Regions from separate parts of the Homo sapiens genome. Here region 2 is linked to region 1. Evidence: fine-mapped expression QTL. A gene starts in region 1. The other region holds a variant in brackets. All regions are shown on one strand. Distances are from middle to middle. Region 1 holds the start of MON1B (MON1 vesicular trafficking associated B). Region 2 holds the start of LOC124903726 (a long non-coding RNA gene).

Region 1 (5,371 bases):
TTTGCTCACCAGCGTAGATGGCACGGATGGCATCTCCCGCACTCTGCACAAAGGACACCAGGGCGGTCATTACACCCATGGTAGCCGACAGCGCCTCCACACTACCATACCGCGAGTAGATGGGCTTGCCAGCCTCACTCAGCACAAACACATGCTTCCGCTGGCTGCGCCACTCCTCATCACTGGGGTCCCCGCCCTGGCCTCCAGAGCTACTCTCAGGGCTACATGTGGGACTATTCTCAGGGGCTGCAGGACTCCAGAGCCGAGAGGTGCTTGACAGGGCCTCTGACTGGGGCGGTGGTGATGGGCTGGGTGGCTGGTCCTTGTCCTTGGATCCTGAAAGGGAGCCCCTGGTGGGTCATCTGCATGTGAACTCCTAACTAATCCCACATCCCCAAGGACCCACCAAATATCTACTAGCCCCTCCATGACCCCTGCATGCTGACGCAGAACTCCAAGTGTCTCCTATGCCCCTCAATGACCCGATGACTGCCCTAGGACCCCGCAATGATCTCCACTAACATTTAGGTTCCAATGAACTTCCTAAAACCCTAATAAACCAACATATTCTCATTGTTATTCCACTGGACTTGCTATGTTCCTACAGACCAATTACTTCCCTTTCAATCACTGTTATTCCAAAGTCTTCAAAGCACCCCATTGACTCTGGATGACGATTATTCATCTTCAATGATCCCCCATTAACTCCTCTGACCGCTATTTTTTCTCCTGATATCTGCTCACCCAATGGCCACCATTAACATCTATTAATATCTTAACTGTTTGAATGCCCCAACCCCCGCTACTACCCTATCAGTGATGCCCACTGATACCTGATGACCCCTACTAACTCTCCTGGTTGCCCATTTATATTCTTGGTAATGTCCACTATTTCTCCCAATGACTGTCGTTAATATCCACTAACACCCAGATATTTAGGACTCCCCTAATCCACTATTCACTCCCACTGTGGTTCACAAACACCCCAATGACCCCACATTAACAATCATTAACACCTGGTTTTTCAATGACCCTCCATGACTGCCCTGATCCACAAGTTATTCTACTCCATGTCTACTCCCCCCTACCCCCAACAATGACCATCATTAACCTCCACTAACACCCAGCACTTCAGAGACCTTCAGTCACTCCCCTGACCACCTTCAATCTCATTGGTATCCACTCCCCTCCCTACAGTAACCATCATAATATCCACTAACACACAAGACTTTAATGACTTCCATTGCCCCTACCCATGACCATCATTAACATTCACTAAAACCCACAACTTCAACAGCCCCTACTGACACATCCATTTATTCCCATTGATTTCCATTCATCCCCCAATGACAACCATTATTATCCATGTGCAACTATGTCTCAATAATTTTCCCATAAAATCCCAATAATTGCATATTCTGTCACTGACATTCACTGACACTCCCATGTCCCCAAATATCTTTACTCCCTCCTAATAACTGCTCTTACCTGCTATTAATTCCCAAGTCCTCAACCTCCCCATCCACATTTATTCTCAGTGAGGTCCACTGATCCTTCCCAATGACTCCATTTACATCCACTAATTCCAAAGTGATCAATGGCACAGACTTCTCAGTGACTTCCATTAAATCTCAAATGAACAACTTTACACATCCACTAACATTTGGTCCCTTAAAGACTTCCCCAACAGTCTACAAGTGACTTCAATGATGTAAATACTCTGAGTGCCCATCGAACTCCACTGATTCCCCTTCCCACTTCTATTATTTAATAAATAACACCCTACTCCTCAAAAACACTAACTTCTCAACAGTCCTCCTCTGTTGAGTCTATTGACTTTCTTCAGCGCATTCTTTGATCTAAACACTCTAAATCCTCAGTGACCCTCTTTGGTCCTAACAGCCCCCTTTTTGATTCCTCAATGACCTAAACTCACACCAAACCCCCAGTGAACATCCGTTGACAGCCAATGACTTCCTCAATGATGTAAACTACACCATGTGTCCACAGTGACCTCCTCCTGACCCGGCGATGGTTTAAGCCACTTCTCTTAAGTCCCAAGACTCCCTACTGGTCACCCACTGACCCTTCCCCCGTCCAACAATGACAACCCCTAAGGATTCCTTTTAAGACCCCACTAAGTGGAGTCATACCTGTTTCCTCCAGGCCCTCGTCTTCGGGATCCGGCGGGACCGCGTGAACCCCTCCACCTTCTCTAGCTTCCTCACTGGGGAACTGCGTGTCCTCCAAGTCCTCCGCGCCCCCGGGGGCCGGGGCAGCAGTGTCTCCTCCGACCTCCATCTGCACATCCCTGAGTGGGAGGGGAATCGAGGGTGACGGGCGGTGAAAGAAACTTCTGAAAAGCCTTTATAGAGTCAGGCCCCCTTGGACACACTCCTACTGCTCATTTCCCCACGGATTTCAATAGGACGAGACATCCAAAATCATGCCCAAATACGTCCCCCCTCCAACACTTTCCGAAAAGAGGAGACTCTACTGGGCCTCAGGAAATAGAGATATACAAACACCTGTTTTAACTCCGAATCTCAATTGGCCGGATACCATTACTTCCCCGTAGCGGCGGTGGCATCACACTTCCGGGTGCGGCCCGGGAGGTGCCACACTTCCGGGTACGACCCCTCCCAGAAGACACTTCCGGTTGCGGAGCTTTATTGGCTCCTCGCGGCGTCCCTCTCCCGCCGCCTACGGGTGTCCCCTCATAGTTGAGATGGCGCGGGCCACTTCGGATCTACGTCAGGTCTGTTCGGGAGCGCAATGAGACCTCTCTGCACTCCTTTCAACGGATCTGGCTACGGCTGCTAACCCGGGAGAGCGAGGCCCACTTCGCTTACCAGTGGTTGGCGTGAGGGGGGACGCGGCTCGCTCTAGCCAATCCCGGAGTACATAGGGCGCGACCGTCTTCTTTCTGGGCCAATCGAGATGAGCCGCCTCATTTCCCCGCTGTCTACTCCCCCCGCCAAATCCTAACCAATACTGTGCGTTGTGTTGCGTTTGCACACGCCCATCCATTGATTGACGTCTCCCTCGACCCAATCGAAGACTCGAGCCTATTCCTTGTTTCACAAGAGGACTTTTGCAGCGTCAGTCCCGATGGATACCTGTGCCGGACCCACAAACGGGCTCTCCCAGAACTGAGGCAACTCCACTTTCTCTTATCCCTTAACCCTGCCAAGAAAGTCAAGGGAGGGGAGAGGCGCGAATGCTTGACGGGCAGTCGCCGCTTCTAATCAGCGTGCCGCGCCAGCAGCTCCGTACCCTGCCGGGTTCCCACGTCTACCTGCAGCTGGGGGAAGAACTCTGCCAGCCCAGGGCAGGGGCGGGCACTCACTTGGACCAGGACCTGCCCGACGCCCCCGGTCCGCCGGGCGAACGGGTCGTCACTTTCTGTGATCAGTTTGGGAAAAGGCTTGGGGGCCCTGCCACGGGCCAGTGTGGGAACCCAGGGTTCGAATTCCCGCCCCGACGCTGCTTCCGGACCGAAAGCCCCCTGAACGCCTTGCCCCAAGTGCCCTGGGCCTTGGTTTCTCCATCAGTGAAACAATGATGGGAATCGCTTGACGTGAAGTGAGTGGAGGTGCTGGCACACTTCGAGTGATTGCTAAGGGGAAGCCTTTGGTACTAGTTAGGATAATTATTTTAATTACAGTATAGTTAGGGTAATGAATTCCAAATACCAGTGTAGCATCATGTGCTTTATATACAATAGGTAATCGATAAGTAATAAATATTAAATTTATATAACAGAAACAATGGATAAATTTATGTGCATACAAAATATATTTACCTAATACATTTAGAAGTATATAATATATAATAAACATGTAAAAAAGTACAATAAAATAACATCTCATAAGCAAACTTATTTATTAATCTCGCTGTGTTACCCAGGCTGGAGTGCAATGGCAAAATGTTATTGACTCATTGCAGCCTCCGTCTCCCGGGTTCAAGCAATTCTCCTGCCTCAGCCTCTGGAGTAGCTGGGATTACAGGTGCCCGCCACCACGTCCGGCTAATTTTTGTATTTTTAGTAGACATGGGGTTTCGCCATGTTGGCCAGGCTGGTCTTGAACTCCCGACCTCAGGTGATTCACCCGCCTCAGCTTCCCAAATTGCTGGGATTACAGGAGTGAGCCATCATGCCCAGCCCAGGGCTACACACTTTAAACAACCAGATCTCGCAATAACTCCCTCAGTCACTGTCACCAAGAGGATGATGCTAAACCATTCATGAAGGATTCACCCCCAAGATCCGATCAACTCCCACCAGACCCCACCTTCAATAATGGGGATTACCATTCGACATCAGATTTCGGTGGGAACATAGATCCAAACCTTATCAGGGGAGTAGAGGAATAGTTACGCCTTCATCTAGCTTTGTCAATCTGCATTTTTACCTCAGAGGAAGCAATCAGATATGCATTTGTTTCAGGTGAGCAGAGGGATGACTTGGGGTTCGCTCCTTTGTCTCGCACCTGTGAAGATAAACTATCAATTTACGTTGTCAGGGTAAAATTCAACAGAACCGTTTTAGGGTAAAGATCTTGCAGCCCACAAGGAATCCCTAGAGGGCAAATTATGAGGGAAGTATGTAGCTTTATCTTTGTAAATATCTTATTTAGGGATAAACTGGGAGGCAGGTTTGCCTGATGCAGTTCCCAGCTTGACTTTTACCTTTGGCTTAGTAATTTTGGAGTCCTGAGATTTATTTTCCTTTTACACCTGCCTTGTATTTCAACAAAACCATATCACAATTAGGCTCCTTTTAAAAATTCTTGCTGATGTGCTCTGTGAACTTTAAAGATTGTTTTCCAGGGAAAATGGCAGAACTAAGAACAATTGTCACACAGTCTCTTATCTGAAACCCTTAGTGCCAGATGTGTTTTAAATTCACACATTTTCCTGATTTTAGAAATGAAATTAGGTGCATGTGCCATGTATTATATAGAGCCCAGCAAGGGACTGGGAAACACCTGATAACTAAACTCATTTTTTCTGAGTGAAACTTTTTATTACTCCCAGTAAGAGAAACACTAAACCGTCTTATGTTAGTTTAGTTCAGGTTTTACCTCCAAGTGAGCTTTTAAAAATTATTTTTCTGGAGCTTTTTGGATTTCAAAACTGCAGACGTAAGTTTATGGAGCTTTATTAGCATTCCGTGTTTGATGATTTGCCACTCTAAACAATTTCTACAATCAAAGATGAGAGATGGGAACAAGTGAAGGAACATAGAGCCATCTCTGGTGTGTCTGCCTTTTTTTTTTTTTAATCAGAAAAGCAAAGACCAAAAATATCTCAACAAACCTCTCCAGTAGATTTTAAGTTATGGCTCATGGCTTGAACTGCAGAGTGT
Region 2 (5,371 bases), 21 kb before region 1:
CCAGAGTGCTGGGATTACAGGCGTGAGCCACAGCACCCAGCTGGTCACTGCGTTTTAGAGACATTAAGCAATTTGCCTGAGGTCATCCAGCTGGTGAACAGGGAAACCAGGACTCGAATCCTAGGTGCCCAGTGGTAAATCGGCAGAATATCCAGGCTGACCCCATTTGTGTGACACAGAGAGGATGACAAAGAGGATACTGAAGTTCCTTAGAGATTCCTGGAGACTGGCCTTAGCAAGTAGGTGGTGTCAGTGGGGCAGGGGACCACAGCCTGGGCCTGGAGTCAGCTCTGCCCGGATGCGAGTGGTGACTCGGGGACTAAAGCTCCCTGGGCCTCATCTGTGGACTTGGGATAATAATGGCAACAAACGTGAGACCCAACGTTTATTGAGGGCTTACTGTACAGATTCACTATCTCAATTTTCCTCATCGCTAAATTGGGAATAACAGCAAGAATAGCAGTGAGAATAATAAATGATAGATACCATTTATTGAGCATTTATGTTATAAAAATCTCTGTTCTGAGAGATATACACACCTTAGTGTTCCTCATCTGTAGCCTGGGAATAATAATAATAAATCATATGAACCACTTACTGATCACTTAATGGACAGAAGCCTCTGATCTAAGTGAGTCACACATCTCAGTTCCCATTCTCTAGGGACTGGGAATAGTGAATCATCCCAACAATATGTGAGAGCTGGCATTCACTGAATACTGACTGTGTGCCAGGTCCTCTTCTACACACATTAGATAGTGTCCAACTTGACTGGTCCTTGGCAACTCTCCAGTGTCGTCTCCCATCCCACTCTACCTCATTCCACTCTACCACGCCGGCCTTCTCCAGACGTCTCCTCAAACACAGCGAAGTGCAGCCTCACCTCCCGCCTTGGCATGAGGCATGTCTTCTGCCAGGCCCACCTTTCCCCAGACACCCACAGGGCTCACCCCCTCGCTTCTCTACCTCGCTTCTCCGCTCAGATACCACTTCCTAGGTGAGGCCGTCGCTGACCGCGCTGTTTAAAATCCAGTGCTTAGAACAGTGCCTGGTACCCAGCAGGCAATCGGCAAATGCCTGCTTAGTCAGTACATGCTCAGTCAATGGCCGCAGCCTGCTGCTGGGTGCCTTTGGATTTGGGTCCCAAATGCCGGCCTCCAGAGTGGCGGACACATTTAACAGATCTGAGGTTGCCTGGGGGATGTGACCCCAGAGAAGGACCAGTAGGGCGAAGGCCCCGAGGGGACACGTGTTTTGGAATGTTTGAGACGGGTGGAGAGGCAGCCTTGGCTAGAACCCAATTTGTGAGGGGAGCTCAGATGGGCGGGCATGTCCCAGAGCCAGCGCGAGTCTGCGGGTCTTGCAGAGACTCTGGGTTTCCTGAGACCACCGGAGACGCACAGGCCCCGAGGACCGGAATGGGTTAACACCTGCCCTCCGGCCCCTGTTGACAACATAGATGGTTTGGGAACTCGAGATGAGGCCGTGGGGCGGGGGATACTGACACCCACTTACTCTCTCTGAGTTCAGGAGCATTTACCCAGCCTCTGTACGGCGCCCGGGGCTCGACTGGTGGGAGGGGTCCGGCAGAGGCCCCGCCTCGAGATCCCAGCACGCCCCGCCCCGCTCCACGGTGTAGCACAGACTCCGCGGAGAACGCGAGCATGGTCGGAAATCATCGCCTTTATTTCTTGGCGGGTCTCGAGGGAAGGTCGGGAACGGGCGGGTCCTGCTGGCCTAGAGGGCGTCAGGGGCAGCCACCGGCGGCTCGGGATCCTCCTCGTCGCGAGCGCGGGGGAGCTCAGGTCCGGCCTGCCGGGGGCTGGGTGAGGCTGCGGACCAGGTTCCTACGCTCCTCGCGTCCGCCCGCGTCTGCCCTAGGCCTCCACCGCGGCTTCCTCTGTCCCCGGGGCCGCCCTGCTCCCCACAGACCCCACTCTCGGGGGCCGCTCCCAGGACCCCCGCCCGCTCTCTCCTGACTCGGTCCCTGCCCGCCCCGCCTCCCTTCCTCGGGCTCCCTACCTCTCCCTCGCCGGCCCCGACCTCGGGGGCGCTCCGGACCTGCTCCCCGAATATCTCCAGCTCCGCCTTCAGCCTGCGGAGAAGGGGCCGAGGAGACAGGAGGAAGAGAGCGAGAGTCCAGGGGACGAGGAGGAAGCCACCGAGACGCGGAGACCCGACGACGCCGAGGGAGGCACAGGCCGGGGAAGCGGCAGTCGGGGGCGGAGCGGGGGACCTGGGCGGGTTCCCCTCCGCCCTGCCCCTGCCCTCCTCGCCCACTCCTCCCTTCCCCTCTCACCCGTCATTCACCGCCATGGCGCCCTCGACCTCAGGCGGCGAGTGCAGCCGCCGCTCCACCTCCCGCAGCTTGGCGCGCACCAGCCTCCCTGTCGGTGGGCGGGCGTCAGGGGCAGGGCCGAGGCCCGGGCACATCCCCCTCCCCCCGCCCACCTGGCGCGGGAGGCTCACTCTCCGAGAGCAGCTGCTCCTTGCTTCTCTCCAGGGCACGGATCTCCCGGGCCAGTCGCTGCTCCAGCATCTGCGAGGACAAAGAGGAGGCCTCCCCGTTTGGCCGTCCTCTTGGCTACACGGCC[C/T]GCCCCTCCCCTTTTGTGCTTCTCGCGAAGTCTTCACCTACATTAGGTCATTCATTCATTCAACTATTTATTAACTCAATGTGCAGTTCCTGCTGTGGCTGGAGACCCACCCACCTCCCCCTAAACGCTCTCCATGTCTCCAGGCACCTCTCAAACTTGAACTCTTCCCACTCTCCTCATCCTCCATTCCCCAATCTGCGGCTCCTCAACGGTTTCAGGCACCGTCCAGCCCCAGGGCCTTCCTTCTGCACCGATACCTGCACGGCTTCTTCCCTCACTTCCTTCACCTCTGCGTTGAGATGTCACTTGCTTAGAGGCCTTCCCACTGAAGTTCCACGATCTAGCCACTAACTTTCTTGGTGCCTCCACCGTCCCCAACCAGCTTGGGACAGCAAAGACGTGGACTCTTTGATCTGCTACCCTCCCTCCCTGCCTCAAATGCTGACCGGTGCAACCACTGACATTAGCTAAATGAAGGAATGACCTGACCATGGCTTTCCCTGGGCTGCCATTTGCCACTGCAAGGTGAACATACACTAGATGAGCAGGGGGAAAGCAGGATCACAATGGTACTGCACCCGTCTGGGCAGGTGATGCTGGGTGTGGCAGTGGGGCATGGTGAGGCGTAAGTTGATTTTAGATAAAAGCTGAGGGACTGAATAGGTGGGCAAGCGGAAGCAAGGAATCAAGGACTATCCCGCGGCATTGAGCCTGGGCAGGGGTGGACTCTGGGCCAGTCAGTGCGACACTAAAGCCAGGGAGGAGTGGCTTTGGTTGCAGGCAATGATAATGGCTCACGTGGAATTCCCAGAGGTCCTTGTGCTGGCCCATCAGATCCTCCAGCTGTCCTCTGACATCCAACCTGGAGGCCGACACCCAGGAATAAGAGAACACATGCTAGGCCTGACACCCTGTTGGGGGCTCCTCATGCACAGGCCTTCAGATCCTGCCCATGCTCCCTCTGCTGGGAGCCCCTTCATGGGTTTTATCCTCTAAGCTTTGGTTCCCGTAGCACCTCTTCCAACAAACTCTCCCTGATGCAAGCCCTGTTCCCACTTTCTACACAGTGGCCTGCCAGGCCCCAGGCTTGGGAGTTACCCCAGATTCCTCTGTTTGAGACTCTGAAACCTGAGAATTATGGGCAAAAATTTGTTCCATGCACTCTTGCAGCATGTGCTTCCTGGGAAGGGAAAGACAACCCTCAGTCATATTCTCTGAATGACCCATCATTCACTCCAGCAGGAGTGGGAGTTGGGATGTCTGTTCACAGCATTCACCTTTCTTGTTTCTCCTGTTGAATGAGAACCTTCATGGGCCTCTGTTGAGAACATTACCCTGTCCATCCTGTCCCCCATGGAATGAACTCTGCCTTCCCAAGAAAGCTTTGTGAGGCGTGTGGTAATTTGGCACCACAGATTCTATAACATCCTGGCTTGAACCCTAATCTGTTACTTCACCGAGACCCTGGCCAAGTTACTTAACCTCTCTGGGTCTCAGTTTCCTAATATGTAAAATGGTGGTAGTGATGGGAGGGTGACATTAGCCTTAACTCCTATAATTATCATTGTGAGGATTAGGTACATAAATGAGCATAAATGCTCATCATACAGTGTGAGTAGTGTGGTTGAGTATCACACATTAGCTAACATCAGGTTTCCCCATGCAATTAAAATCATGGTGCACCAGGATGAGAGACCTCTGGTAACAGGAGTGTGCTAGGTAAAAGTTCAGAAGATGTCGGGTGTGGTAGCTCACGCCTGTAATCCCAGCACTTTGGGAGGCCAAGGTGGGCAGGATCACCTAAGGTCGAGAGTTCGAGACCAGCCTGACCAACATGGAGAAACCCCATCTCTACTAAAAACACAAAATTAGCCGGGCATGGTGGCACATGCCTGTAATCTCAGCTACTCGGGAGGATGAAGAGATGGATGGATACAGGTTGGATAGACAGTTGACTGGATGTGTGAGTTGCTGGCTGGAGAAATGATAGCTGATTGGAGAAATGATGAGTAGAGGAATAGTGGCTGGACAGAGAAAGAAAGGATTGCTAAAAGGAAGGGTAGATGTCTGGATGGATGTTTGGCTAAGTGAATATATGATGGAAAGAATAAAGAGAGGATGAATGCATGATTGGATGGATGGAAGATTGTTAGGTGGAAGGCCGGAGATAAAACAGCCATCTGGCTGGATGACATGGTTGGATAGATGGATGAATGGATGAATGAGTGAGTAGGTGAATGGCTAGATGGGTGGATAGATGAATGGGTGGGCAAATGGATGACTGGGGCTTAAAATAAGGAGGCAAATAAGCAAGTGAATGGATATCAAAGGAGCTGGATAGCCAACAGAAAAAGACTGAGGCTAAGACCAATGGAGGGAATATATTTGATAAAGAAATTAGTAACGAATAATTAAATGAGTAAATTAATCTTAACACGACCATTTAATATCAGAGATAACCAAGGAAATCTTTTGTCAGGCTGCTCTATTTTATAGAAAGGTAAAATGAGGCTTCTGTGTCCAAGATTCATTTCCACAGCTCTTGCTCCCTCCTTTTTCAGCTGGGGAATGAGGTAGGGAAGAGCTGAGGCAGGGCCTCTTACCTCTGAGCCTCGCTTTCCTTCTCTTGGCAGTGCATCTGGAGGATCCTCAGTGCCTCTGTGGGGAAGGAACCAAGGGGACCCTTTGAGAGCTCTTGGGGAGTCAGGGTTGGCCAGAGGTAATAGGCCCCACATCATGTCAGGCATTGGAGGGCACTGTGAGGACTTGGGTGTTTA

Evidence for each region.
Region 2: its variant is fine-mapped to the expression of MON1B in tibial nerve (GTEx, PIP above 0.99). The same link has a PIP of 0.9 or more in left ventricle, lung and skeletal muscle.

Annotation. Positions count from the first base shown.
Region 1 is chr16:77,188,416-77,193,786 of GRCh38, reverse strand. MON1B (MON1 vesicular trafficking associated B) reads right to left here and starts at 2,597. Exons shown (of 6, transcript NM_014940.4): 1 at 2,529-2,597; 2 at 2,154-2,311; 3 at 10-336. The coding sequence starts at 2,301. It overlaps LOC124903725, which reads left to right and starts at 3,221. Exons shown (of 1, transcript XM_047435021.1): 1 at 3,221-3,879. The coding sequence starts at 3,221. The coding sequence ends at 3,565. RefSeq lists enhancers at 2,446-2,495, 2,516-2,805, 1,931-2,879.
Region 2 is chr16:77,209,298-77,214,668 of GRCh38, reverse strand. It overlaps SYCE1L (synaptonemal complex central element protein 1 like), which reads right to left. Exons shown (of 11, transcript NM_001129979.3): 6 at 5,198-5,252; 7 at 3,393-3,456; 8 at 2,470-2,539; 9 at 2,300-2,387; 10 at 2,023-2,095; 11 at 1,454-1,812. The coding sequence ends at 1,738. It overlaps LOC124903726 (a long non-coding RNA gene), which reads left to right and starts at 2,538. Exons shown (of 2, transcript XR_007065121.1): 1 at 2,538-2,640; 2 at 2,738-3,082. RefSeq lists silencers at 1,509-1,558, 1,589-1,678, 1,789-2,118, 2,179-2,538 and an enhancer at 1,458-2,431. The variant C/T (reference allele first, on the strand shown) is at 2,595.